5 separate regions of the Homo sapiens genome follow, and regions 1, 2, 3 and 4 are each linked to region 5. Evidence: fine-mapped expression QTL. A gene starts in region 5. Each other region holds a variant in brackets. All regions are shown on one strand. Distances are from middle to middle. Region 1 has its middle 26 kb from the start of PLB1. Region 2 has its middle 42 kb from the start of PLB1. Region 3 overlaps SPDYA (speedy/RINGO cell cycle regulator family member A). Region 4 holds the start of LOC124907746 (a long non-coding RNA gene). Region 5 holds the start of PPP1CB (protein phosphatase 1 catalytic subunit beta).

The links.
Region 1: its variant is fine-mapped to the expression of PPP1CB in whole blood (TOPMed, PIP 0.94).
Region 2: its variant is fine-mapped to the expression of PPP1CB in whole blood (INTERVAL, PIP 0.90).
Region 3: its variant is fine-mapped to the expression of PPP1CB in whole blood (TOPMed, PIP above 0.99).
Region 4: its variant is fine-mapped to the expression of PPP1CB in whole blood (TOPMed, PIP 0.91).

Annotation. Positions count from the first base shown.
Region 1 is chr2:28,467,321-28,473,212 of GRCh38, reverse strand. No RefSeq gene overlaps it. Among named protein-coding and RNA genes, the nearest start is that of PLB1, 26 kb to the left of the region's middle. The variant T/C (reference allele first, on the strand shown) is at 3,608.
Region 2 is chr2:28,451,052-28,456,943 of GRCh38, reverse strand. No RefSeq gene overlaps it. Among named protein-coding and RNA genes, the nearest start is that of PLB1, 42 kb to the left of the region's middle. RefSeq lists enhancers at 4,187-4,700, 4,701-5,214. The variant C/G (reference allele first, on the strand shown) is at 2,725.
Region 3 is chr2:28,819,999-28,825,890 of GRCh38, reverse strand. SPDYA (speedy/RINGO cell cycle regulator family member A) reads right to left here. Exons shown (of 8, transcript NM_182756.4): 5 at 3,481-3,566. Among named protein-coding and RNA genes, the nearest start is that of SPDYA, 12 kb to the right of the region's middle. The variant A/T (reference allele first, on the strand shown) is at 3,286.
Region 4 is chr2:28,672,048-28,677,939 of GRCh38, reverse strand. It overlaps LOC124907746 (a long non-coding RNA gene), which reads left to right and starts at 2,691. Exons shown (of 2, transcript XR_007086257.1): 1 at 2,691-4,782; 2 at 4,950-5,127. It overlaps LOC105374384 (a long non-coding RNA gene), which reads left to right. Exons shown (of 3, transcript XR_939878.3): 3 at 1-901. The variant A/G (reference allele first, on the strand shown) is at 2,712.
Region 5 is chr2:28,749,443-28,755,334 of GRCh38, reverse strand. It overlaps PPP1CB (protein phosphatase 1 catalytic subunit beta), which reads right to left and starts at 3,505. Exons shown (of 8, transcript NM_002709.3): 1 at 3,159-3,505. The coding sequence starts at 3,210. PPP1CB-DT (PPP1CB divergent transcript) reads left to right here and starts at 3,579. Exons shown (of 5, transcript XR_007086259.1): 1 at 3,579-3,692; 2 at 4,950-5,892. RefSeq lists silencers at 1-161, 2,853-3,072, 3,563-3,752 and enhancers at 2,935-3,579, 3,883-4,092.

The sequences.
Region 1 (5,892 bases), 280 kb after region 5:
TAGACACAGGGTGCTGATTGGTGTGTTTACAAACCTTGAGCTAGATATAGAGTGCTGATTGGTGTATTTACAATCCCTTAGCTAGACATAAAGATTCTCCAAGTCCCCACCAGACTCAGGAGCCCAGCTGGCTTCACCCAGTGGATCCTGCACTGGGGCCGCAGGTGGAGCTGCCTGCCAGTCCCGCGCCATGTGCCCACACTCCTCAGCCCTTGGGCGGTCAATGGGACTGGGTGCCATGGAGCAAGGGGCGGTGCTCGATGGGGAGGCTCAGGCCACGCAGGAGCCCATGGTGGGGGAGTGGCGAGGCTCAGGCATGGCGGGCTGCATGTCCCGAGCCCTGCCCTGCAGGGAGGAAGCTAAGGCCCGGAGAGAAATTGAGCACAGCAGCTGCTGGCCCAGGTGCTAAGCCCCTCACTGCCCGGGGCCAGCGGGGCCCGCCAAGCCCACGCCCACCCAGAATTCTAGCTGGCCCACAAGCGCCGTGCAGCCCGGGTTCCCGCCCATGCCTCTCCCTCCACACCTCCCTGCAGGCTGAGGGAGCCAGCTCCGGCCTCGGCCATCCCAGGAAGGGGCTCTCACAGTGCAGCGGCAGGCTGAAGGGCTCCTCAAGCGTGGCCAGAGTGGGCACCAAGGCCAAGGAGGCACCAAGAATGAGCTGAGGGCTGCCAGGGCTGCCAGCACGCTGTCACCTCTCACTGGGACTTTTATTTGTCCATCAGTAAAGAGGAAGAGATCATCACCAAGGTCCCTCCCCTGCTGAGCATCATTCCAGAGCACCATCATGGAGGAGACGTCCCTGCCCCTGTCTTCACTTATATCCTCCCTGGGCCCCTGTCTTCACTTATATCTCACCACATCCCATGGGCATGTTTTGGGGTCACACCCCCAAAGCCACAGGGCCCATGTGTGGGTGGAAGGAAATTCCTATTCATTCAACATTCTGTGAGTGTTGGGCCTTCAGTGAGCCAAACCCATTTTAGGTGTTATGTGGAAGACAAAAAAGAGACAAGATGTGATGCCTGCCCTCAAGGATCTCATCATCTCTGGAGAGATAAGATGAACGTACTCAGAAAATAATAAAGTCTAGAAACATAACAGGAAAGTGCATGGAAATGTACACAGAGGCACCAAGTGCAAGTGGGACTCTGGGGGCAGCTGCCTGGGGAGGGGAGATTGGAGGAGGCCTTGAAAGGGTGATGTGCCCTTGCTGGAGGAGCTGGGGCAGCGGCATGGAGCTCAGGTATGACAAGATGGGTATGGGGTTGGCCTGGCATGTCTGACCAGGTGGGGTGGGGCTTCCCAGAGATGGGGTGACACAGGTGTGGCTGCTTCATTCCATCCAGGCCCACAGACCTGGGCCCAGGACCAGCCAGCACCACAGGTCCAAAACCACATTGGACAGATGTCATCCTGTAGGAACATGTTCCCCGAGGAGGGTCCCTTCAGCCCTAACTAGGATGCCTGGATACACAGACACACAGCACATCCTGGCCAGGGCGGGGGCTGTGGGAAGGATCCAAGCATTGCACTGCAGCTTTTATCACACCTCACCCTTCTCCATCCCCACAACCAAATCGATAAAGGGTCATCTCCTACCTGAACCGTTCACAAACTCCTTTCTCCCTCTTCCTGTCACCCTCACAGCTGGCCTCTTGCTCTCTTCGCTGGCATGATGGGTGCCCTTGGGCTTCTCCCTGGGCTCTGCCAGCTGGACCTTCAGCCTGGGACAAGCCTTTCTAGGCAGTTCATCCCTGAGAACACTGTGGTGGCCACATGAGGGAGGCAGATCCTCCCCCGCCCTGGCTCCCGCCCATATCCCAGCAGGCTCCTCCTCCTGCACTCTTCATTGGCTTCTTCCCTTCCTCCCCTCATCACCGGGCTTCTCCTCAGTGCTGTCAGCTTGGGCCTCTTCCCTTCACCCATGATGCCTGTGGCCTTCTGGAAGGGTCACATGCCCCTCTCCCAGACCCTCAGGGCCCTCCATCCTGAGCCCAAGCCCTCCCTCTAGCCTTAACCTGAAAGATTCCCTCAGAGCCCGCCACATAGTTCTAGGGCCACGCTGCCTCTGTGTCTTCGTTCCAGCTGCACCTTCAGCCTGGAAGGCCTTCCTCCTGCCTTCACCTGATAAGTCCCTTCCTGCCCTCCAGATTCACCTCGAACCCCACCTGTCTCAGAGCAAAATGCACATAAGGGTGCACTTTGGAGTCAGAGACCTTGGCCCTTAATTCCTGCTTGGCCACTTTCCAACCATGTGGACCTGGGCAAGTCACTTCACATCCTTCTGAGTCTGTTCAATGAGTAATAAACTTTCCCAGTTCATGAGAGGAGGGGACGATCCCTAGCTCAGAGGTGAGAATGGAATGAATCAGGTATATGGAGTGCTCAGCACAGCACCTGCTCCTGGTCTGTCCTCAGGAGTGCCTGTCATTGGGGTGTGTTTCTGGTCCCCTCTCACCAACTGTGGAGCTTCAGAACATTCTGAGTCTCTCTGACAGCGCCCAAATTGGACGTTCTTTAGAGCTGGCAAACTCCTCTCAATTAGAACTCTTCTTTGCACCCCTTTTGGTCTTATACAAAATGTTTTTGTTGAATGGAAATAAGGATTCCCCTGTCCTGAAAAGAACAAACACTTCCTGTGGCTGGAAGTGCCCAAAGCCAACAAACGCCTCTCTGCCAGCACCTGCCTTCCGACCCTGAGGCCAGCCCAGCACCTCACCTCACACCTCACCCCTGTGTGTTAGACCACTTTGGCCTTTTTCTGGTTCCTCCTGTGCCTGCAGCAGAGTGACCTTGGACAGGGAAAGGCCTGGCTGAGCAGAGATGACCCCCAATAACAGCCAAAGAAGAAGCTGTGCTCGTGCAACTGACAGAACCTGCCCACCAGCCAGGCTGCTCCTCACAGACCTTCTTCTCGTGCTGTGCAAACAGAATGAATGGTGCCAAAGGCCAGGTGGAGTTACACTATTGGCATGGGAAGAGGCCTAAGGTGTTCATATTTTTGTATGCACAGAACAAAAACTTTGAAAGGATATCCTCCCACTTCCTCCTCCTCCTCCTCCTCTTCCTCTCCTGCTCTCTTCCTCTTTCTTCTCCCCCTCTTCCTCCCCCTCCCCCTCCTCCCTCTCCTCCTCCCCTTCCTCCTCCTCTTTCTCCCCCTCCTCCCCTTCCCCCTCCTCTTCATCCCACTTCCCCTTCTCCCTCCTCCTCCTCTTTCTTCTCCTCCTCCTCCTCCTTCTTCTTCTTCCTCTTCTTCTTCTTCGATTTTCCTGCTTTAGCTCCATTTTTCAGGAAATTATACATTTCCCATTCTATTTGTGGGCAGGGTGTGTAGCTCACCCTTCCCGCAAGGGGGAACATTTTTCTGGCTTTGTTGATTTCTGTATTATTTCTATTTTTTCAAAGAGATGAAGTGTTTTTTTTTAAACAAGTAAAGAAAAAACAAAACATTGAATGAATAAATAAGTAAATAAATACATGGCTTTAGCCCACGCTCTCCCTTTTCAAGAATTTGCTCTTCCATAAATCCACCTTCCCCCAGGGACTTACTCAGTTTAAGCAGTCAGTGATCTTCCAACTAGTCCCCTTGGGATAGAAAACTGAAGAA[T/C]TGAGGCCCTGTGGGGGTGGCTGTGGAAATCACACAGCCAGGGCTGTCCCAGTTCCCTGCCATCACTATGACTAAGGCAATGCCTGCTGGCCAGTATCCAGCCAAAATCCCTCCAAGGATGGGGAGAGAAGAGAAGCCTCTCTTTCCAGCACACCCAGAGTGGCCCTGATTGGCTAGGCCAGGGGCACTGGATCAGCATCTCCCAGGCTCAGAGAGTTTCCTTCCTAAGGCCCCAGGGTTCTCTCCCACCAGCTGACCTCAGAGGATCTGCCTTCATCTCTTAGAGATGTGAGAAATCATGGTCCCCAGCAAGCAGGAGGCAGGTTCCTGAGGCTGCTCAGGGCCACTGCACAGCTGACACCTCCTTCCCAGCAGCCTTCCAGCTCCACCTGCAAAGGAACGTGTGAGAACGGGGTCCAAACCGTCCCATCATGCCTGTCCTTCCCCCAGGACAGTAGGTGTCTACTCACAGAAGTCCACACAACTCAAAGCAAAGAGAACCCACTCAAGGCGGTGAGCAGAGTCTCTCCTTATCCAGCCCTCTTCCTAAGAGAAGAACTAAATGACCAGGCAAATCAGAGGTGTCACCACACACAGTGACAAGGGGAGCTCTTGTCCAGCTGGACTGGGCCTCACTTGAAGGCTTATTGGGGAATTAGTTAATCAGCAGTCCAGCAGCCTCCCGGAGCCCCCAGACAAATGGAAAGGACATTTCTGGGGTTCATCTCCCAGCCCCCTTTCCTGCCCTCTACCCAACCATGCCCTTATGCCTCATACTCCAGTTAGACTAAATGCACCCAGCACTCATCATTTATGAGGCTTTGCATACGGTAATTTCTCAGCAGAGACCACCCCCTTCCCTCCCTCCTCCCCCGCCTGGATAACTCTTACTTCAAATGCAATCCGTGCCCCTGGAAAACCACCCTGCCATTTCCCCTAACTTCCTTGGTGTCCCTCCTCTGGCCAGGCCCACTGGCACCCTGTGCCCCCAGAATAGCCCTGATCCTCAGTCTTTTGTGGATCATAGGTCTGTCTTTGTATAGATGCAGGAGTCCTTGAGAACTTTGCCTTTCTATAGCCCCAGTTGCCAGCACCTAGCAGCGCAGCACTGAGTAGCTGCTCAATAAAAATGTGTTGAAGTGAATAAAGCCATGAATTAGAATGTAGATTAAGACCTAGAGGCCAGGAGAGGTGGCTCATACTTAGAATCCCAATATTTTGGGAGGCCGAGGCAGGAGAATTGCTTGAGAACAGGAGTCCAAGACTAGCCTGGGCAATATGGCGAGACCCCATCTCTACAAAAAAAAAATAGTTGGACTGTGTGCCTGTGGTCCCATCTACTCAGGAGGCTGAAGTGGAAGGATCCCTTGAGCCTGGGAGGTAGTGAGCCATGATCCTGCCACTGCACTCCCGCCTGGGTGACAGAGAAAGACCCTGTCTCAAAAAATGTTTAAAATTTAAAAAATTTAAGAAGACCTAGAATTTAAACTCCTCCCATTGGTACAAGGAAGGAGTGAAATGAAGGCTCCTTCTCCTGACATCCCAAACTACATCTGATAGTCTGTTCTGCCTGTTGGCCAGGCCCCAGACCTCCACCTTCTGACTCTATCCTCTCCTTGCCCTTTGCCTCCATGAAGCTCTTTCTAACCACCCTGGTGTCTGAACCCCCAAGCCCTTGCTGCCTGAGCCCTTCACCTGCCACTCGATTGGTCCTGCTTTGGTTCCTGATTAGATGTGGGCCTGATTCTTCTCCCTACCCAGGGCTGAAAGCTCCAAAAAGGCAGCCAGCCTGGCTTCTGCTCCTTTGCCTCCCCCAAAGGAGAGGTGCGGGGTATGGCCCAAAGTCTGCATTTCATAAATTAGCAAAATGGCTGAGTGAATTGATGAATGGCTTAATTTCCAAGGAGGGTTTCACATTATTACACAGCTCCCTACATCCCTGTGGGACTTGGTGAATCTCTTGTGCCTTCTCCAAAGAACGTGTGCTATGGCACATGGCACATGTAGGCATATTCACACTCCTCTCAGTGTGCATAAGACCCTTTGGGTCCCCTACTACCCCACACCTTCTGAGTGCCCGCTGCTCCCACCCCAGGTTCACATGTTTCTTTCCCAGCCCTACTGTAGAAGAAAGAGCTCAGGGGCTGAGGGCAGGAGCCTGATGTCACCTCAGCTTTGGTCCTGACTTGCTGGGAGGTTTGCCCTCTATATGCCTCACCTTTCTGTATCTATGTATTTTCTTTCTTTCTTTCTTTCTTTTTTTTTTTTTGAGACAGGGTCTTGCT
Region 2 (5,892 bases), 300 kb after region 5:
GGGACACAGAGCCAAACCATATCAAGCCCCTACATCCAGAAAATGCAAATTTCATTCAACGCTAAAAAGAAATGTGCTGCCAAGCCATGAAAAGACATGGAGAAAACTTAAATGTATATTATTAAGTGGAAGAAGCCAGTATGAACAGGGTGCATACTGTATGATTCCAACTATATGACACTCTGGGAAAGGCAAGACTACGGAGACAGCAAAAAGACCAGTGGGTGCCAGGGGTTGTGGGGAGGGAGGGATGAACAGGCGGAGCACAGAGGATTTTTAGGGCCGTGAAACTACTCTAAGATGCTGTGACAGTGGATAAAGTCATCACACTTCGGTTAGAACTCATAGGACATCAACACCAAGAGTGAACCCCAATGTAAATATAGACTTTGGGTGATGATGCATCCATGTGGGTTCTTGATTTAATGAATGTACTACACATGTAGGGGCAGGGGTATATGGGGACTCTCTATACTTTGTTTTCAAATTTGCTATGAACCTAAAAAATAAAGTCTATTAGAAAACAAAACAAAAGGATCCCCAGATGCCCTGAGCTCTGTTTTACAAGGAGGGCCACCTGGCTCCTCAGGCCACAGCTCAGAAACCCCTGCTCTCCCTAGGAGGACTCACAGCCACATTTTCTCCTTTGCCTTTTAAGTGAGCTGTAGGGAATCCTTTGAGTCTCTTATCTGGGTCACCATTTAGGATAACTTCCACCGGAAGTGTCCTCTGCTTGGTTCCTTGACTTCAGTGTCACCTCCCCGGAGGCCTTCCCCAACTACCCCATTCCTAAGTCACTGTCCCTCCCATTATCTTGTATGATTTTCCGCCTAGCACTCATCATGTCTGAAATGAGCTCACCTGTTTACATATTTATTTTAAGTCACCCCTTTAGAGAATGCAAGCTCCACTAAGGCACTGACTGTGCCCCAGTGCCCAAAGCAGTGGCTGGCACAAAATAGGGGCTCAGCAAATATTTGTTGACTAAGTTATTTTGTTACTGAGCAGCAGCATAACCTAGGGCAAGGCAGTTAAACTTTTCTGGGCCCCAATTTCCTCATCTGTAAAATGGGCAACTACTCTTAATGATTGTGCTCCCTTTTCACGACAATGCTCTGAGTGTTGTCTCAACATGACCTTGTTTTGCCACGAAAGGACTTCTGCAGTGAAACAGGAGAGGTCCCCGATCCCCCTCAGGATGTGCCGCTTGCCTTTTCGGTCACCCCTGCTGCTCAAATCCCTCTCAGGAGGTGGAGCATGCAGATGGGAAGGTGCAGAGGCCAGGGTGAGCCATTTGGGCTCTGGCCCTACTGTAGTGTCTAAAGGTGGGTGCCTGCAACCCCAGTGTTACAAAGCTCTTTCAGCTTTGCTGTCCGCAGACAGCATGTGTTAACCAGCTCAATGGACCCTCTGCCTTTTCGCAAGGGCAGAGGGCCAGTGTGACAGCTCTCTGTATCACAAGCTCTTATCCAGCATCCCGGAAAAACTGGGTCACACATGGGCTTGAAGGATGAATGCGAGGTTTTATTGAATGGTAGAGGTAGCTTTCAGTGGGACGGATGAGGAGCCAGAAGGGGGGTATGGAGTAGGAAGGTGATCTTCCCCTGGAGTCAGGAGCCCAGCAGCCGGACTCCTCTCTGACCGTCCCCAGTCAAACTCCTCTCCATGTTCAGATGTTCCTCCTCCTCTCTCTTTCTCTACTGCATCGTTCCACTGTCCGTCTGCTGGTCTGCTGGCTTGCTCGTCTGTTTCTGAAGCCTGGGGTTCAGGGTTTATATGGGTGCAGGATAGGGGGTGTGGCAGGCCAAAAGGCAACTTTTTCCGCTCAAAAACAGGAATGCCTGTCCTCATTTAGGGCCGTGGGTCTTCAGGCTTGAGGGTGGGGCCTTTGCCAGGAGCCACCCTCTTCTACCCAGTATTTCCCTGTCTCCTGTCCGTATCACCAGGCCATCTGGATGAGTACTTATGGAGAGAGTTCCTAGCAGCTTAGGATGTTGCTTCACCTTGCAGACTTGAGTTTGCAGATGCCAGAGAGAGGTTGGAATGTGTGCTAAGTAGATTGGGGTATGTGAAAGTCTCTCCCCTAGAAGGTCAGCCGTAAGGAGGCAGGGATCTTGTGTTTTATTGATTTTTATGGCCCAAGAGTCTAGAACAGTGCCTGGCACCAAGGAGGCTCAACGAATAGTTATGAAATGAGCACAGGAGGAATGCTGGACACGTCATTGACAGTCAGAACATGAACTTCCATTCTTGGGTGAGTGTCGTGTGGTATGGAAACAGCAATAATAATGCCTTCCATTAGTGGAGCCCTCTGTAAGGTGTTTACACACACATCATCTCATTTGATCCTCATGACAACCCCATGAGATAAGTACCATTAAGTGTTATTATCCCCAATTTACAGATGAGATAACTGCGGCTCAAAGAGTTCAACCTGCCTGAGGCCACATAGCTGGTAAATGGCAGAGCCTGATCTTGAACCCAGGATTTTCTCGCCCTAGACCCAATGCTCTTATCTGCCTGTGTGTTGCTGGTCATGCAAAGCTCTGAGTGTGAGCAGCAGCTGGAAGCCTCACATGAGAGCCAAGGCCCTGAGGAGAGCCACCGTGGAGCAGACAGAAGAGCTACCTGTGACTGAGCCCAGGCCTGCTGTGCACACGGAGGCTGCCAGAGCTCTCAGCAGCAGGGGCTGGGTGAGAAGCAGGAGAGGCGGGTGAGCTGGGC[C/G]AGGCCCCTCTCAGCTCCAACAGTGGCCAAGTGCCCCTCTCGGGGAGCTCCTGAAGAGACCGCAGGGCCTCACGTAGGCACCGCCACCCTCAGGCCCAGACATGCATGGCTCCAAGCGGGCCCTTCACAGGGCACAGATGATGCCAAGGATGTGGGCAAACTGGTTTGAGGAACACAAAAACCAACTCAGAGTTTTCTCCCTTTCCTCAACAAGGCACCAGACCTGGCTTGTCACACCCCATGCCAAAGAGAAGTCTTCAAAGTGGTGTTTGCTTAGCCCCCACATCCTCCTGACTTTGCCAAAGTCCCTTATGTCTCCCTGAATCATACCTATGCACACGCACATGCACGCGCGCGCACACACATACACACACACACACACGGTGCCCAGGCCACCCCAGGCTCCTTTCCCTGGGAGCCCTCGAGCTGAGCCCTGGCCCACCTCTGTCCACAGCAATCCTTCGCACTCATCCTGCAGGCTCTTCTCTCTGCTGTCTGTTCCAAAGGCGCCTTCCCTCTTCTATACTCCAGAGCCTGCCCCAGGCCCTCCGCCCTGGTTCTGGCCATGGGGGCTTTCCACTAGATTTATCTGTACAGGTGACCGCTCCCCGTGTAGCCGCCAGCTCCCTGAGGGTGGGGCTCAGGTCCCTGTGCTGGGACCCACCTGGTCTAGGGGTCACAACCGCTGGCCACCCTGCATCAGGCCCTGTCAGGGAGCCCTGGGAGTCAGTAGTTTAGCAAACCTGTCTGGGGCCTTCCCCCTAGAAGCCACGGGGGCAGTCATGAAGAAATGGAGGGTGAAGGTGGGTGAGGCCAGGACAGGTGGCGGTCCACACACTTGCTGTGTTAGTCATCAAGGGCACCCAGCAGGGCAGAGGTCATCCCTAAAGCTGTGGCGAAGGGGATGGGTGGGGAGAAGGAGACAACGCATGCCAGGGAAAAGGCATCATGTCAAAACATCTTGCTGGAAAGGCAGTTTTCCTTCCAAACTCCCCAACAAGACCCGAAACGGTAAGTGGAAGGATGTCTTGATTAATCTCAGGCTGACGTTTTGCATTTGCTCTTGCAGCCAACACACACCGAGCCATCAAATCACCCTCCTGCTCCGTGCCAGACTCCGAACATGGAGTCCTCATTCCTGCCTCAGCAGCACTGGACAGAGCTTCTCTGTCCTCCCCCCTGGAAACGAGCCCCCAGCACAGGACCAAACAGATCATTGCTTCTACCTAGTGGAGCTAATAGCTGTTCATTGACCACATAGTCACTGGTCCCCTACTCTCCCAGCCCCTTGCTAAGCACGTCACATGCATTATCTCATTTACAAATGGGGTGGTTCCCAGAGATGGTTCTGGGGACCACAGTGGAGTGGGGAGGGGGCACTTCTGACCTGAGTGGAGTGAAAAGACAGCTGGCCCAGTCTCTTTTTGCGTCTGCTGCCCAGCATCATTGTCAACAGAGTCCACCTCATGCTTAGGAATGGCCCGGTTTGGAAGGTCAATTCTAGGTTCAGAGATTGGCCCAAGGCACCCTGTACCTGAGAGGGGCAGACACTAGAGGGCGCAAGGGAGCTGCGCTTGGTGGCCCAGGCTCAGGGATGTCAACTGGGCTGCAGCCTTGGGGCAAGGGCTATCTGCAGAGAGTGGAGGTGGGAGGCAGGTGGGGGGAGCGGGGGAGAGTGCCTAACCCTGCTCCCTCACAGAGCCCTTGCCCAGACCCAGCCCTAGCCCACATCCTCTCACCTCCATCAATCGCCCAGCAGGAGCCTGACCGGCCTGGGAACACAAGAGGGAAAAAGAGGTTCTGGGCCTGGCCTCTCCCCTCTCCACCACTTCAGCCCAGCCAGGCCCCAGCAAGCCTCTCCCCTGGGCTGGAGCCCTCAGACTCTCAGGCCGCTCTCCCGATGGGCTGGGACTGCAAATGAACCACGTTCTGGAAAAACAGCCAGGCCGTGCATCAAAGAAACTCCACGGCCCTCCAGGGGGTAGGTGTGGGGCGGGCCGGAAGCAGGAGGTGGAAGGACTGATAGAGCCCTTGGTTAGGAGTTCCGGTTCGGAACACCTTCTCCTCCTTAACCCACCCTCAGGAGCCACGAGGGCTCAGTTACAAGGCTCAGGTGGCAGCATCCTGGCCTGTGAATCAGGCTGACCAGGGTCCCTGCCCCGCCTGCTCCCACGGCCACAGGGCTTGTAACCTATGAAAAGCCCACTTCTCATGGTCCTAGCCTGGCCAGAGGTTCTGAATGTGCCACTGCCCCGTCCAAGACTCTGCCCGCAATCAGACGTGGGGCAGAGGGGGCGCCTCCAGGAGGCAAACTTTCCATTCCCACTGGGACAATGCCATGACCCCAGCCCCTGCTGACTCCTCTCCAGCCAATGGATCAGGCCACAGGAGGCCCTGCCTGCCTCCAGAAACTGGACGCCCCAAGCCTCTAAGTCCTCTTCTTGAGAGAAGGCCACATAAAAGGCAAGGTGGTGACGTCTTAGAGGCACGTACTTCGGTGTCCCACAGACTTGGGTATAGGTTGTATCTCTGATATTAGCGCCTTGGGCACAATACTTCACTTCTCTAAGCCTGGGTTGATTCACCTGTAAAAGGTAATAAGAACATCTACTTCACAAGGCTGGTGTAAGGATTAAATGCTACAAAGAACAGAAAGCGCAGAGCCGAGTTCCTGGTGCCCAAGCCAGCAGGAAAGTGGAGGAAGATGCTCTGAGCAGCACCTGCAGGGCCCTTCCGGCTCAGCCCAGTTTCTCTCTGCAGTGGAGTCCCAGTCTGCAAGCTAAGAACGGAGATGGACTTTCAATCCCAGCTTGGTATACATGGTATACACGGGTGAATTTTCTATTAGACAGTGGCACCAACGGATGTAGGAAGCCATGAATGCCTCGGTGTCAGCAGCCTCAGCCTAAGAATCATTCATTCATTCATTTGTTCATTCATTCACTTATTCAACAGACACCTTTTTGTCCAGACAGTCCCAGATTACAACTGTTGTCCAGATGTAATTATTAATAGCCTCCTTTGACCTTGAAGTGTCCCAGTTTGGATGATAAATTATACGGTCTCTCTGCCTACTGAGCACCTACTATGTGTCAGGTCCCAGGCTAGGCCCCGGGGATTGAGAGAGAGATAACGTAATGGCCCTGCCCTCTAGGGCTCCGGAGACAA
Region 3 (5,892 bases), 71 kb before region 5:
TGCTATGTGCCTGTGGTCCCAGCTACTCAGGAGGCTGAGGCAAGAAGATCACTTTAACCCTAGAGGTAGAGGTTGCAGTGAGCCAAGATCATGCTGCTGCACTCCAGCCTGGGTGACAGAGTGAGACCCTGTCTCAAAAAAAAAATTAAGAACCTCCTATATGTTAGTAATTGAAAGATGAAATAAAATGTTATATGTTCCTTGCCCATAAGGAGCCTACAATTAAGTAAAGAAGGCAAGTAAGCATGAAACAAATAATTGTGAAAGGTAATGTGGAAGAATGATAATAGAAGTTCAGAGTCTTATAAGAATACATAGAAAGGAAACATTATAAGACTGTATAGAAAGGAAAAGAACTTGAGCTTTAGAACTATGGCTGAGAAAATATTTAACGAGGAGAACTATTGAGGCCATACAAAAAGTATGATTAGTCTTAAAATGGAAATTATAATTCATGTTATTTTTAATATGGAGCTTACATAATACAACATGCAGTACAACCTTACAGATAATTGTATTGCATAAACTCAATAGTGCTCTACTGGTAATAACTTTATAAAACAAGTTAAACGAATTCAATTTCAGGCATCTAGTAAGATTTAAACTAAAGCTTCTTTTGGTTTGTTTTTAATTCTCAGGTAAAAAAAAAACACAAAATAAATATTGCATCAACATAGATACAATACAATACTGAGATATATAAACAGCAATTTAACTTAGTGGTTGATGGCTGAATTTGGTCATTGATAACCACTCCTGAGTTTGTGCCCCTGCTTTGCTGCTTACTAACTTGTTTGTTCTTAGAAAGTACTTAATCTTCCTCTCAGTTTCCTCATCTGTAAAATGGGGATAATAAAAAATTTATTTCATAGGGAAAATTAAATGAGTTAATACTACATTAAAATTTTTTGTGGTGCCTTGCACATAGTACTCAGTATTACCTAATACTATTATATTTAGCAATCATCCTAAATTTTGAGTTCATTTTTCCCTGTGCACTGGAAAATATATCTCCTGAATACAAGTAGAAATCAGTTTCTTTGGCTGGGCGCGGTGGCTCACGCCTGTAATCCTAGCACTTTGGGAGGCCGAAGCAGGTGTATCATGAGGTCAGGAGATCAAGACCATCCTGGCTAACACAGTGAAACCCCATCTCTACTAAAAATACAAAAAAAAATTAGCCGGGCGTGGTGGCATGCGCCTGTAGTTCCAGCTATTCAGGAGGCTGAGGCAGGAGAATTGCTTGAACCTGGGAGGTGGAGGTTGCAGCAAGCTGAGATAATGCCACTGCACTCCAGCCTGGGCAACAGAGAGAGACTCTGTCACAAAAAAAAAAAGAAAGAAAGAAAAGAAAAAGAAAAAAGAAATCAGTTTCTTCTAGTCCTGTTTTTTTTTTTTGTTTTTTTTTTTTTCTCCTGACAGCATCTTGCTCTGTTGCCCAGGCTGGAGTATAGTGGTGATCATAGCTCACTGCAGCCTTGAACTCCTGGGCTCAAGTGATCCTCTTCATCTCAGCCTCCCAAGTAGCTGGCACTACAGGCACATGCCACCATGCCTGGCTAATTTTTTTATTTTTATTTGTGTAGAGACTTACTATGTTGTCCAGGCTGGTCTTGGACTTCCAGCCTGAAGCAATCCTTCCGCCCCAGCCTCCCAAAGTGCTGGGATTACAGGCGTAAGCCACTGTACCCAGCCTAGTCCTATTTCTTTAATAACTCTTTGATTCTGAATTAAATACACTTTGAGTAAAAACTTTACCTTCAGTGCTGACAGCTATTGTGGTATTCAACTTAAATATTTTTTATATGTGTTCTCTAGGTAAACACTTAAAATTATATTCATATGGCTGGGCGCGGTGGCTCACGCCTGTAATCCTAGCACTTTGGGAGGCTGAGGCAGGCGGATCACTTGAGGTCAGGAGTTCGAGACCAGCCTGGCCAACGTGGTAAAACCTCATCTCTACTAAAAACACAAAAAATTAGTTGGGCGTGGTGGTGGGAGCCTGTAATCCCAGCTACTTGGGAAGCTGAGGCAGGAGAATTGCTTGAACCCGGGAGGCAGAGGTTGCAGTGAGCCAAGATCACGCCACTGCACTCCAGCCTGGGTGACAGAGTGAGACTCCATCTCAAAAAAAAAAAAAAATTTTATATATATATATATATATATATATATATATATATATATATATTCATGCATTCCCAACTACAGCATTATATCCAGCTATAGGGTAGAAAAGGAAATATACTCTTTTTTTTTTTTTCTTTCCTGAGACGGAGTCTTGCTCTGTCTCCCAGGCTGGAGTGCAGTGGTGTGATTTCGGCTCACTGCAACCTCCACCTCCCGGGTTCAAGCGATTCTCCTGCCTCAGCCTACCGAGTAGCTGGGATTATAGGTGCCCACCACCACGCCCAGCTAACTTGTGTATTTTTAGTAGAGACAGGCTTTCAACCATGTTGGCCAGGCTGGTATCGAACTCCTGACCTCAGATGATCCACCCGCCTCGGCCTCCCAAAGTGTTGGGATTACAGGCGTGAGCCACCGTGCCTGGCCAGAAACATATTCTTAAATAATGCAAATTCCAAATGTATTCTGACCTATAGATTGGAAAACCATTTCACAGATCACAATGAATATAAACTAAAGTCAGTGGAAGAACTGGAAAACAACTGTATTCCTTTGTCACAGCTCAGTGTGTTTAGTAAAAGAGCCAGTGAATACCAATGGTATCAAATACGAATAATGACTATGTTATAGATATAGGTCCACAAAGACTATGTTTAGAGCATTTTCCACAAGTTGTTCAATGTAAAAGGGCAATGATGATGGTGATTTTTACTATATATTAATTGAAAATTTCAGAGAATATTCTGGTTTTAAAAAATATCTAAGTCACAAAGAGGAGAATTTGGGATAATTTATATGGAAGCATTCTGAAAAATGTAAAACATGCAATACAAATTGAAGAGGAATACTCCAAGAAATCTTGGCCAGGCGCAGTGGCTCACACCTGTAATCCCAGCACCTTGGAAGGCCGAGGCGGGCAGATCACGAGGTCAGGAGATCAAGACCATCCTGGCCAACATGGTGAAACCCCGTCTCTACTAAAAATACAAAAATTAGCTGAGCGTGGTGGCACGTGGCTGTAATCTCAGCTACTTGGGAGGCTGAGGCAGGATAATCACTTGAACCAGGGAGTCAGAGGTTGCAGTGAGTCAGGATTGTGCCACTGCACTCCAGCCTGGCAACACAGCGAGATTCCTTCTCAAAAATAAATAAATAAATAAA[A/T]AAGGAAATCTTAGGCATATAGCATGATAAGTGAAAAAAACATAAAAATATCCTATTAAAGTAAAAAACATACAGCATTTATACAGGAAGGCCTATTCAAAGATATACATAAGGTTTTAAATAGCCTCTGTTTTAAATAAGGTGTAATGTATATAATAGATAACACAACAATCACTTAGTAGAAAGTATACTTACAGAGCAATAAAGAAATTTATCCTGGTATGCTCACTTATAGTAAATTTAGCCCTCTTGAAATAAACAAAGGTCATAGCCAAAAGATACTATAAGGAAAAAAGTTAAAAATTAATATTAATGTTTTGCTTTCATAAATAAAACTGCTTTAAAATAGTTAACTTTAAAATTTTCTGATGAATAAGCTAAAACAATAAAGTGTTACTTATTATAGAATTGTGTACTTAATTTTTGGATTCCTGTAATCCACCATGTGAACAGTGAAAAGTAATTCTTGACTATTTATTATATCATTATAAACTAGAATGGACTCCTAAATTTTATTATTGCCAATAGTTTGAGCTAAAATCCCACTTTTATCTAATTTAAATTTCAAACCTATACAGAAACTGAAATAACAGCAAAATGAACAGCCATGCATCCTCACTTAGATGCACCAAATTTGCCATGTTTGCTATCTCTATTTGTGTGTATGTATGTGTATATATAATTTTTCTAAACCCTTTTAGTTACAGACATCCATACTCACTTTTTAAAATAACTTTTTAAAATGATTTCCAAATGACTTCAGAAATTAGAATAACATGGCTGTATTTTCATGGGGAGAATGTGTTTTAAATGTATTATTAGAAAGATACATCTCTAGCCTGATTATTAGCACATATGCCAGGTTCTGTCTGTTCAAATTAAAAACAAGTTATAATAATGTATCAGATTATCTCTCGTAAGACATTTATTCATCCTATTGTAACAGGATTTGCCACAAAGGTGATACCAAGTTTTCACAGTAACTTCCAGTAAAGTACTCTTGAGATCGTGTTAAGACAGTACTCCAGGTAGTTACTTTTCCAACACTGCCCCCTTCTGCACAACAACTTTACTGCACCTTAAAACCATAAAGTTTAAAACTTCCTGACGGGCGCAGTGGCTCACACCTGTAATCCCAGCACTTTGGGAGGTCGAGGCGGGTGGATCACAAGGTCAGGAGTTCAAGACCAGGCTGGCCAATATGGTAAAACCCCCATCTCTACTAAAAATACAGAAAAATTAGCCGGGCGTGGTGGCACATGCCTGTAATCCCAGACATTTGGGAGGCTGAGGCAGGAGAATTGCTTGAACCCGGGAGGCGGAGGTTGCAGTGAGCTGAGATCACGCCACTGCACTCCAGCCTGGATGACAGAGTGAGACTCCATCTCAAAAAAAAAAAAAAAAAAAAGAAAAAGAAAAAAAAAAAATCACATCATAACTCCACATGAATTGTATATTTGATATTACAGCATTACTGTTAATTTTAAAAGTTCTATGACATTGTAATTGTTTTAAAACAGCTCTTAACTTTTAGTGATATATTGTGAAATATTTATGGATAAAATGTTAGGATGTCTGGGATCAGCTTCAAAATAATCGTTTTTGGTGAGAGGCATTAGAAGAAACAAGAACAGCCACAGTTGATCTATTGTAGCTAGATGAGATGCATATGGAGGCTCTTTGTTCTATTCTATTTACTTCAAATTGTGTATGTTTTAAATTTTCCAAAATGAAATTTAAAAAATTTTATAAACCTTCTTCTAGTGTATCCCTGTCATCTTAAGCTTAAATAAAAATCTTCACCCCAGTACTTTGTATTTAATCACAAGCTAACCTTCCACTCATTCCCTTTACTGTTGGCTAGTAGTGATGTAAAGTCACGCTTAATTTTCAAATATGACTGCTTGGTACAAAATGGCATTTACAAAGCTGAAAATTCTTAGCACGAGAAATATTTTTCTAAAAGAAAAAAATTGAAAAATACAAAGCTGAAATTTTATTTTATTATTATTATTTTTTTGAGACAGAGTCTCGATCTGTCGCCCAGGCTGGAGTGCAGTGGCTCGGTCTCGGCTCACTGCAACCTCTGCCTTCTGGGATCAAGCAATTCTCCTGTCTCAGCCTCCCGAGTAGCTGGGACTATGGGTGCGCACCACCACACCTGGCTAATTTTTGTATTTTTAGTAGAGACAGGGTTTCTCCATGTTGGCCAGGCTGGTCTTGAACTCCTGACTTCAGGTGATCTGCCCGCCTCAGCATCCCAAGCGCTAGGATCACAGGTATGAGCGACAAAGCTGAAATTTTAACCATTCAACAAAATCTAAAGAATATAGAAACATCGCTGCTCCCAGTGTGTAAGTCAGACATTCTTTTATGAAACACTGATTCCTAAACAACATGTTAAACTAATTTTACCCTACAAATTACTGAGATTTGTTTTCTCTGACTTACAAAATACTAAAATGCAGACTACCTTAGTAAAGTAAATCTCAGAATATTTTTTCTCCACAGCCTGATAAAAGGTAATAACTGATCAAAATGTATTAAGTCTATACTGATTTTCTGTTTGTGGTTCTTTGGTTTTTGTTCGTTTTTGAGACAGGGTCT
Region 4 (5,892 bases), 77 kb after region 5:
GCATGTGTATGCACGCACATGCACACACACACTCTGATTCTCTCTCACACACATGCACGTGAAATTCACTGGTTGGGGTTTCATTTTCCCAGAGCTCAGCTCCATGTATTTTTCAATGGGAGGCAAGAGAAGAGTGATCCTTCCATTTCAGGTAGCATTTGCTCATTTAAACCCTGATAACGTGTTTTCTAACCTCCAGGCAAAGTATATGCTGGCCCATGTGGCAAGCCACCCATAAGAATGAGAGAAAAGCGCCCTCCCTCTGGGCAGTTATGGGCCTTGGTGGGCAGAGTTTGGGTTGGATTCCAGTCCCTACTTGCCTCTACCCTGGAGACCTTTGTGCTCTGAGCTATCTCACAGATACTTTGGAGGAGTGATTCTAATGGGAAGAACTCTAGGCTGGGGAAGGAAGGGAAAGTTTTAGGGGTAGATGAAGCCTTGTAGTTGCCCACAGATCATCCCATGTAGGTGTCTGTCTATTCTGTGTGCTCAGAGAGCTGGCATTGCAGGCTGGGCTATGCCTCACTGACTCAGCAGGATTGATTGCTCAGCGCCCCTGCAAAGTGCCTAACACTGCAAGGAGCATCAGTGCCCATTTTATGTGACCAGTTTCTATGGCCCCTTTAAAATGGGCCATAATTTTAGAAACATGACTTAGTTGATCACTTGATCATGTTTGATCAATCAAGGTGACTGATTTGGGAAGTAGGCAGGGTAAGAATATTATAACCATCTTAAAGATGAAAAAACAAAGACTCAGAGAGGTAAAGTGCTATGCACACAGTCACTCAGCTGGTAAGCGGCAGGGTTGGAACCGTGCTCCTCTGGTTCTGCCAATTAGGCAGCCATGTCATGTTGCCTCCTACCAGACAGACTCACGAATGCCGGCTTGAAGCTTAATTTTCTAGAATGTATAAATATTTAAGAAGTCCTGGCCAGGCCCAGTGGCTGGCCTGTAATCCCAGCACTTTGGGAAGCCGAGGTGGGTGGATCACTTGAGGTCAGGAGTTGAGACCAGCCTGACCAACATGGTGAAACCCTGTCTCTACTAAACTACAAAATTAGCCAGGCGTGGTGGTGTGTGCCTGTAATCCCAGCTACTCGGGAGGCTGAGGCAGGAAAATCACTTGAACCCGGGAGGCGGAGGTTGCAGTGAGCTGAGATGCACCATTGCACTCCAGCCTGGGCAACAAAAGTGAAACTCCAACTCAAAAAAAAAAAAAGTCTTTTGTGCCTCTGAAGTATGGGCCATTTGCCCCACACATTCTCTCATGTCCAATCAGCCATTCTGATGGATTCCCCAGCAGTATTACACATAGGTTTAGCACTTAATGTTCTACAGAAGCCTTTTGCTTACAGCAGTCTAGGAGGGTGCCAGGGCAGGTATTCTGTCCATTACATACGAACAAATGGAGACCCAGAGAGGACAGGTGGACTGCCAAGCTCACATGCCTGGTTTGGGACGAGCATCCAGGTCTCCCCATTTTCAAGTCCAATGAGCTTTCAGCCATATCATGCTGCCTCTTCCCCAGAGGGCTTAGGAAACAGGAGAAACTGCCTACAGGAAATATGCTTCACCTTCCTCCACAGACACAGGCTTCTAGGAGAACCAAGCTCCATGGAAACGGAGAGAGAGAGTGTGTATATGGCATTTCTTTTAGGGCCACTCCAGTTCTCATTAGAAGCTGATGAACCACAGCATATTTTCATGGTGGGTCAATCCTAATCCATGTTATCTTCAAAACAAACCAGAATAATTGAATTACAGAATGTCAGAAAAGAAAGAGAACCCCAGAGCCTTCTTTCTAGTCTAATTCTCTCATTTTACAGACGAGGACATAGTTTGGGGCTATGATAGAGACAGGTGAAATGATCTGCTCAAGGCCACCTGCCTAGTTAAGGGTAGAGAGAATATTCTACAGTCCCACGTTGAAGTTGTTAGCTTGGTTTCTGCCTACGTATATTCACGATCTGGGGATTAGGTCCTGAGAAAAGTGAATGGCTGTTGTCATTTCTATCCTATGCTTTACTCTGAAGGAGGCCCAGGAGGGTGACAGAGTGAGGAACGTGGAATACATTGGCATCATATTGGTCACTCTTTGAAATCTGTAATCTGGCACCCCCCAACCTTGATTTCCTATAACCTGGAAGAAAAAAAACAATCTTTACCTCAGCATTGGCCTTGAAGACTTCTGAGTCCTAAGCCTGTGCTCCATCCCCTGCAGATTCCCACTGTTCTCTGGGAGCAGTTGCTCTTTCCACACACATTTACTGAGCACCCATTTCATACCAGGCCCTGTGCTAGGCCAGGGGACACCCAATAAGCAAGACAGACATGGCTTTGATCCTCAGTCTAGCAGAAGCAGAAAGGCTGCTTAAAATGATTCATCCTGGAATTTATTATTTATTTCCTATTTTAAAATCTTTTTAGAGACAGGGTCTTGCTGTGTTGCCTATGCTGGAGTGCAGTGGTACAATCATAGCTCACTGCAGCCTCAAACTCGTGGGCTCAAGTGATCCTCCCACCTCAGCCTCTTGAGTGGTTGGGACTACAGGTACATGCCAACATGCCCAGCTAATTTTTAAAAATTTTTTGTAGAGAAGGGGTCTTGCTATGTTGCCCAGGATGGTCTCAGACTCCTGGGCTCAAGTGATCCTCCTACCTCAGCCTTCCAAAGTTGAGGATTACAGGCGTGAGCCATCATACTTCT[A/G]TTATTAATCCTAGGAATGCCCTGGCATCAGCATTCATAACTCGGGCTGTTAGGTGTCCCTACTCATCTGTTCTGGATCCTGAGTTGCCTTTCCCAGTCTCTGTGTCTGAAAACCATTCCCTGTTTGTTTCCTGATGCTCATCCCAAATTGGATCCCAAATCCTGATTTATGGGAGCCTACATGGATGACTGCTGACCACACCCCTGTGTTCTCCTTGCCTGGCTTGAGCACCTAAATTTATCAGTGTGCTGGGTGTTGGGGATAGGATGCTGAACAAGTGACACATCACCCCCACTCTCAGGACTGGATGCTGGCTCCAGGCTGCTACCCTCTGGCCCGGGCTAGGCAGTGTTTTCCCTTTTCTCTTGGAACTGATGAGCATTGGCCATGGCTCTCTAATTCAGATGCTAAATCTTTTGCATGTTTTTGCTTTGATCTCATGTCAGTCTCTACCCTTGACTTTGACATTTGGATTCATGGTAACCTCCCTGATGAACTGGCCCCCAACTACAATCTCGGGCATGGCAACTTCCTGCCACTATGCTCACCAGCTTGGTCTACCTCCTAGTTCTCCTTCTTTCTGGCTCACTTCATCTGAAGCAACCATGGCCTAGAGCTGACCCATCATGATAACAGGCCTTCAATAAATATTTATGAAGTTGAGTCAACTCAGGAGCAGTTCAGAAATTCCAGGAACCTCTAAAAGAATACAAAAGAGTTGGCTGTCATATCATGATATGTTCCAAGTTGAAAATAACTCTTTTCATCTCTGTGCTTCTCCGTGCTCCAGAAATTTAAAAGAAAGCATAGAGTCTCATGGTGGGTGAGTCAGGGAGGGCCAAGGGGGCAGTTCTCCATATAGGACTTGCATATCTAGGAATAGTTTGCAGCCTCAAACCCAGCCCTTTGGGAAGCCTGGATGGCCCTGGATGTTGGAAGTGCTGGGAACAGGTCCTACCTGTTACTGGCTGATCTGGTGTGTTCTTACCTCCATATCTCTGCGTGATAGGCTCTGTCCACACAGAAAGCAGAAGCAGTGCCCATCTGTGAAGTTCTTTGTTTCCCTTTAATGCCTCTTTATGTTTTTGCATAGGCTGTTCACTCTGGGTTAGAAACCTCTCAGCCTTCATGAGCTTTCTTCATACCCACATAAGGTAGGTGCAGGCAACTCACTTGGGGCACCAAAGCTAAAGCCTTGTGCAGCCAATGATGAGGCCTTCCCTGAGGGGCAGCCAATGGCCATTTTTCCTGCCATCTGGCTCAATTCAGCCACCATGTCACTAACTGGAGCACACCCTGGTCCTGGTTTACAGTGAGCATTAGCCATGGCTCTCTAATTCAGATGCTAAGTCTTTTGTATGTTTTTGCTTTGATCTCATGTCAGTCTCTACCCTTGACTTTGACATTTGGATTCATAGTAACCTCCCACTTTTCCTGAATTTTGTTTGCATCTTGATGATTTCACCCCCAGAATGAGAGAAAGATTTTGCCTTTTGAAAGAGTGGTTGAGCCTATATATCCTGATGACACAGCCTGTAGGATGGCCCCCAATGCCCTCCACCTCCTGGTGTTCATGGCCTTGTGTAAGGCCCTCCCCTTGAGCTATACACGTATTCTAACAAATAGAATACAGCAAAAGGGATGGACACAATTTCTGAGATTAGGTTATAAAAAGACTGTGGCTTCTGTATCAGGTATCCACTCCTTTCCTTTTCCCTTCCCTCCCCTTCCCTCCCTTTCCTTCCCCTTCCCTCTCCTCCCCTGCCCTCCTCTTCTTTCTCTTTCTCAGATCATTCGCACTGGGGCAAGCAAGCTGCCATGTTGTGGGCAACTTTACAGAGAGGCCCACGTAGCGTGGTGAGAAACTGAGATCCTCAGTGCAATAGCCTGTGAGGACTGACACCTGCCAACTTACCAAAGAGTAAGCTCAGAAGTGGATTTTTCAGCCCCAGTTGAGTCTTGAGATGACGGAAGCCCGAGCCAACAGCTTGACTGCCATGTTATCAGAAACCCTGAGCCAGAATCACTCAGTTTAACCACTCCTAGATTCCTGACCCCCAGAACTGTGAGGTGAGATGTGTTGTTGTTTTAAGCTGCTAAATTTTGAAGTAGTTTGTTATGCAGCAATCGATAAATAATACATATCCCCATATAGGAACTGCAAATACACAGCTTTCATTTCTTCCCTAGCCACTCATTTATAACCTTCTTGTCATATGCCTTCTCTCCCCATCAAGGCTGCTGCTAGCCCATAAGGCATCTTTGTGCCAGTTATGAAACGGGACTCATTCTTCAAGATGCTTTTCTCCCTTTGGCTGGAAGATTGTCATAAATCTCCAATCTGTGAAGGGGGCCATGCTGTATTAGTCCATTCTCATGCTGATAATAAAGGCATATCTGAGACTGGGTAATTTATAAAGGAAAGAGGTTTAATGGACTCACAGTTCCACATGGCTGGGGAGGCCTCACAATCATGGTGGAAGACAAAGGAAGAGCAAAGGAACATCTTACATGGCGGCAGGCAAGAGAACGTATGCAGGGGAACTCCCATTTATTTTTTTTTTTAAGTTTTATTTTACTTTAAGTTCTGGGGTACATGTGCAGAATGTGCAGGTTTGTTACCTAGATAAACGTGTGCTATGGTGGTTTGCTGTACCTATCAACCCATTACCCAGGTATTAAGCCTGGCATGCATTAGCTATTTGTCCTGATGCTCTCCCTCCCCTCGCCCCACTGACAGGCCCTGGTGTGTGTTGTTCCCCTCCCTGTGTCCATGTGTTCTCATTGTTCAGCTCCCACTTACGGGTAAGAACATGGAGTGTTTGGTTTTCTGTTCCTGTGTTAGTTTGGTGAGGATGATGGCTTCCAGCTTCATCCATGGGGAACTCCCACTTATAAAACCATCAGATCTTGTGAGACTTATTCACTGCCACGAGAACAGTATAGGGGAAACCGCCCCCATGATTCAATTATCTCCACCTGGCCCCACCCTTGACATGTGGGGATTATTACAATTCAAGGTGAGATTTGGGTGGGGACGCAGCCAAACCATATCACGTGCCCTGTAGATTGCTGACTTTGTGCAGTGCATAATCCACACTACTGCATATAGCAACCCTGGCCCCACTCCTGCTGAAAATTTCGCCTCCACTGTTGTTGATGACCTGCTGTTTTGCAACC
Region 5 (5,892 bases):
GGCGCGGTGGCACATGCCTGTAATCCCAGCACTTTGGGAGGCCGAGGCGGGTGGATCACTTGAGGATGGAAAGTTCGAGACCAGCCAGGCCAACATGGTGAAACTACTAAAAATACAAAATTAGCCGGGGCGTGGTGGCATGCTGTAGTCCCAGCTACTTGGGAAGCTGAGGCAGAATAATCGCTTGGACCTGCAGGGGCAGAGGTTGCAGTGAGCCAACATCACCCCACCGCACTCCAGCCTGGGTGACAAGCGCAAAACTCCGTCTCAAAAAAACAAAAAACAAAAAAAACTTATCAATAATACGCCCACCTAAAAAAGAAAAACAAAAAGCAACTCATAAAATGTAGTCACCAGAAGTGTGTATAGCTGATCTGCGATTTAATACAGTAAAAAAGAAAAAACAATCAGGAATATGTTGTGGGGCTACAATCAGCATTTTAAAATGAGATCAGGTCCTGCTGAATGTTTTCCCCTAATGCAGAGAAATTCTTGCCAAATTTTTACTTACACGTTCATTTGACACTAAAAACACTAACCATAGTTATTCTTGCTAGGCAGCTTTACAAAATATCACTAACTAGCATCTAATATCACTGAAAATCCAGGTGGACAAAATTTTCTTTGAAGATTAAAAATAATTATTTACTAGAAAATTCAAGTCTGCTCTGGACAAGTCTTTCAACAGGTCTGGATCTGGGAAGGAGCTGAAAAACCTAGAATATTTAAGAATCCCTTGGGGGCACTGTCAAACTAAATATGCTTCTGTAGGATGAAGAAGTACTGATAGAATGTGTGCTGAACATAGGACAGAGAGGAGGCTGAAAAAGCCTGAAAGACACTTGTTTAGACTGGGAGCTCCTTGAGTGAAGAGACTGTGTCTTATCTTAGGATTGCTGGTGCCTGGCAAGGAGGAGGTCAACTTGTTAACGCTTGCTAAATTAAGAGAGAAACGTATCTGGACTACAATTCTTACCCGCCCCCCCCCCGCCCCCCCAAAAAAGGAAAACAGATTGTACAAACCAAATATTTAATTTGAATTCACAAAAACAAATGGAATCACTTATTTTTCCCCCAGTGTCTTTTCTAGTAACCTTGCACAACCCACTCGTGAAGTTTAAGTACCTGTAATCATATAAAGGTGCGTCTAATTTAAAAGGATACAAACATTTTAAAACATAAATCTGTTTTATGCCTACAAAATATATGGAAAATGAAATAAAATATAAATAAATTGAGATACAAACATATTTTTAAAATATTTAAATTTACAAGCAAAGTTTAAAATATATAAAAATATGCCGGGCGCGATGGCTCACGCCTGTAATCCCAGCCCTTTGGGAGGCTGAAGCGGGTGGATCACGAGGTCAGGAGTTCAAGACCAGCCAGGCCAAGATGGTGAAACCTCCGTCTCTACAAAAATACAAAAAAAATTAGCCGGGCATGATGGCGGGGTGCCTGTAATCCCAGCTACTCAGGAGGCTGAGGCGGAAGAATCGCTCGAACCCGGGAGGCGGAGGTTGCAGTGAGCTGAGACCGTGCCATTGCACTCCAGCCTGGGCGACAGAGTGAGACTCCGTCTCAAAAAATAAAAATAAAAAAAAAATAAAAAGGAGTAGGCCTCTACTTCCCAAATGTAAACAAGACATACACATTTTTAAATTAACTGTATTTCCCTCATAAAACAGTTACAAAATACAATTATTTTCAAAGCAAATTTCTCAAAGACCCAGCAAGATGTTCACATCTGAAACAAAGTCTTAGGTAGTGAACACTGACTGCAGGCACCAGGGGGCCTCCCAGGAATAACTTGATAGTAAAGGAAAAGGTAAATAAGAGTTCCTGGTAAAACTTTTGCTTCCTATTCAGTCTTAAGACTGCTGGATGGCTTTCACATCTGGAGCAAATACACAGTATTTAGTTACAGAACAGGTACTCACAGAACTTGGGTTTGAGATACCGACACATACTTTGAGAAAAAGGAATTACCCCTCCCCCATTACAATATTCTTTGATGATTTTCCAAATATAAGTACATACTGCTTCACTCTAGCAATTATCTTAAGGTAATTTGAAAGCAAACAGTACATATGCAATCGCTGGACGGCGGCTAACAAAGAGGCCTCTAAATTGTTTAAAAAGGATTAAAGGCTTTTCTACACACTCACAAAACAATTATTGATGACGAAAACTTTAGGGTAGAGGGACTGTTTGGCAGAAGACTGCATTTAACTTTGAATAATATCCTGCAATGAATCAATACATTTAACTCCCGGCTAGTCCACCTCTTCGTTTTCCCCCCTTGCCTTCCCACCAACATAAAACTATTCAATAAGAACACTTGAGCCCGGAAAGTTCAAATGCTGCGTAGACCTACAAATACCTTTCGAATACAAGACAGGCTTTAAAAATAGATTTTCACTAAGTTTGTGCAGAAATTAAGCTCTGCTCAAATCAAATGCAAAAGCCAATCCCTTCAGCAAACCCATCTACATACATCACATTTCTTAGGTGCATCTTCAACCTGATCAAATATCTTGTCTTACAATTTTTTTAGGCCAAGTAACAAACGGTAGATTAATTCCCGCTAATTTTATCCTCTCTTTAAGAAGAATCCATTCTATATAGCATTGTGTAAAAATGCAGAGCAGACGAAGCAGTCCTGTTAAGGACAGGTTTATATATATATACGTAAAATTCACTCCCGGAACGACAATCGGAGGCAGCCAAGGGCAATGCACAAAGAGAACAGAGAAGAACAGTGATTCCACGGACGCACAAAGCCCAGTGGCAGGCATCCTCTCCCCATCCTCGGGTCACCGGAGGCGAGCACCACGGCGCGCGGAGCCCGGCGGCCTTTCCGAAAGGCTGTCTCCCGCAGACCCGCTCCGCACAGCCTTCGGCCGGCGGGCCTGGCCCCCGAGGGTCCGCGGGAACGGCCCCCTCTCCCCCGATCTCCCCTGACCGCGCTCCCAGAGGCCGCTCCCCCGCGCCCAGAGCCTCCTCGCCCCCTCCTCGGTTCGTCCGCCGCGCCGCGCTCCCAGAGACTCGTCTCGGGGCGGGAAAGGGGTCCCCTCGCGTTCCGGCGGCAGACGGGGACGCAGGGGTCGGCGGCGGTGCCCGACCTCCCTCTGTCCCGCGGCCAGGCGCGCACTCACCCTCCAGCAGCCGGGTGATGAGGCTGTCCACGTTCAGCTCCCCGTCCGCCATCTTGTCGGCACAGACTCTCCTTCCCAGCAGCGGGAACAAGGGCTTCTCGGCGGCGGAGGCTGCGGCGACGGCTCGGCGTTCTCTCACCTACAAGTCACGCGGCGTTTCGACCCCGGCTCCAACTCCCCCTTTTCCCGGGCCCTCCCCCCACCCCCTCCCCGCCGGGTAGCGAGAGCGCGCGCACACTCGGAGGCACCCACGGAAAATAAATAAATAAACAAGAGAGGCCCCCTCGAACAGGGCCGCGTCAGACCCAGGCCGCCACCTCCTCCTCCTCGGCACCGCCCAGCTCCGCAAAGCTCACCAGCGCCGCCGACGGCCCCACCCGCAGCGCCACTCACTCCGCACGTCCCTTGCGCGCCGCCGCGTCACGCAGCTCTCCGCGCAGGCGCGCGGTGCGCTCCCCGCCGAGGCTCCCCTCGACGCCTGGGCCGCCGCGCAACCGCACTGGAGCGGCTTCTCCCGCTGCCGTCTTCGCGCAGGTGCGTCGCCCTCTCTCCACGTCCACGGCGCCGAGTCTCGCCACGGTGGCGCAGGCGCCAGGGAGGTTCCCCGGCTTTGCCGCGCGGAGGAAGTCCCGGTTACGCAGAGCGCGCTGGGGCAGGGCTGACCTTCCCCTTTCTCTACTTCACTGGCCTCCTCCAGACGTGGTGGTTGCGCCCTTTCGGCCTCGCTTTCCGTTTTTTGGCTTCATCCCCTAGATCTGCAAACAGTTCCTCGTGTTTCTTCCGTTAGCCGGGAAACGCGAACTGCAGCGTTTGGGACCCGGGTTTGCGCGTGTGGAAAGCAAAAGGGGTTACTCTGCTGGAGTTCGACATTGCAAATAAAGGTCTTTATCCCCGGCGGTTCTACAAAATTAGTTCTGCAGGGATTCTGGTTGAAAGAAGCGTTAAAGTGGGCCTTGTAGGAGTCAGCAATAATCCAATTTTACATGGGTGCAGGTGGCTGCCTGTGTCTAGCGCTTTCACACATCTCATATCTTCATCCACGCCGTGGGTATTTTTTTTCCACGGTGTGTTTCTGTTGCTGCCTCCAGTATATTGCTTAATCATCCTACCTGGTAATTATTTATGCATTTTTCTCCTACTCTCGACTCAGCTCCTAGGGAATAAAAACACATTAACTTATCTTTGTGCCCACAGCACCCACCAAGTATTTCCATCACGTAATACTGCCTCTAGAAAGGCAGGAGGAGAAGCAGTCACGCTAAGGATCTAGGCAAGCCAGATCTTTTGTCCGGTTTTAGGAGGTGGCCAGCCCTTACTTATTCCACAAGTGTTTTTCCAGAAACTCAGACTTGATATTGCCTCAAGTCCAAGGCAGTGTGCTTCCCCCACTCACATATCACTAATAGTAGCTAACATTTGTTCAGATCCCTGTATGTACTCTGCCACTGTTTTAAATGTTACACCCGGGTTACCTCATTTAATCCTTACAACTGCCCTGTGAGGTAGGTACTATTATTATCTCTACTTTGTAGATGGGATTCACCGAGGCACAGACGGTTAAAAAACCTAGCCCAAATAACACAAATAAACAGCAGAGCATGCAGTGCTAGAGTCTGCATTCTTAACAATTGCTATATTCTCCCTCTCCGTGAATGTGGGCTGAGATGCTGAAACAGGCATGTGCTGTGGGGGAGAAAAAGCTTTGTCCAACCAAGTGCTTTCTAATGTCCAGATGACATAGAGCTAGGATTTCCTAATGTCTTTTTTCCCCTATTTTTCTCTCCATTTCAGGGTTGAGTTTGTGCATCGATTGTGAACACAACAGGCAGCAGGCTATAATGGTGGTCCTGGCTGGAGTAGTTTTCACAGACTTCAGTAATCTGTGGAGATGAACGGGCAGTTCTCTGTAGTTTTCACAGATCACTGCCAGTTCGTTTTGAGGCCTTCAGGAGTGAAGACCTGGCTCATCATCACTCTTTGTTGTTTTGTTAAATTTATTTACACCCTACTTTATTCCAGAGGAAAGGATTTAACGTAGTTTACATAAATGTGTACATCAGGGTAAATTAAAAATAAGTACAGAGAAAAATAGGACAAAAGAAAACCGTGAGTGTGAAAGATAAGATTAAGCCAGCAGTTTTGTATGCAAAATGCATGGTGTAAGGTCCTATTGGTTTGCTGGAGGTAGGCCACACATATGACTCTCAGTTTTCTAGCAACCAAGAAAAAGATCAGTTGCAATCGGAGTAGGTGTTTTGGCTAAGCTGGAACTAGGACTTGAATATAGCAGCTTGTAGAGTTATACCACTTGCCCAAATCTCTTCCATGAGCCTCTTTAAGTGTAACAGAATGCCTGGGAGCACGTAAATGCTCCTACTTAGATGCCTACTTAGCCTCTAATTTTCATGGGGCCCATGAATCCCATGAAAAAGAACTTTGAACCCTGTCCACAATTAGAGTTCAGGTATACGCAGACATGTTTAAAGACAAGGGACACCCAAAGGAAAGATTGCACAGAGAGAAAGTGAGCATCCGAGAGAAAATCACCACAAGTGAGGCAGAGGGAGGCCGGTCTCAGCAGAGTTTTGGAGGTCGTGAGAAGAAGAGGTAGGAGATAGGAGAGTGGTTCCGAGTACTTGCCTGCTGATGTTACCTTCTCCACCCCCACCAGGTTTTCCAGTGCCTGGAGTCTTGGGCAGGAATGGGCCACTGTAAGAAAGAGCTTTATCACTAG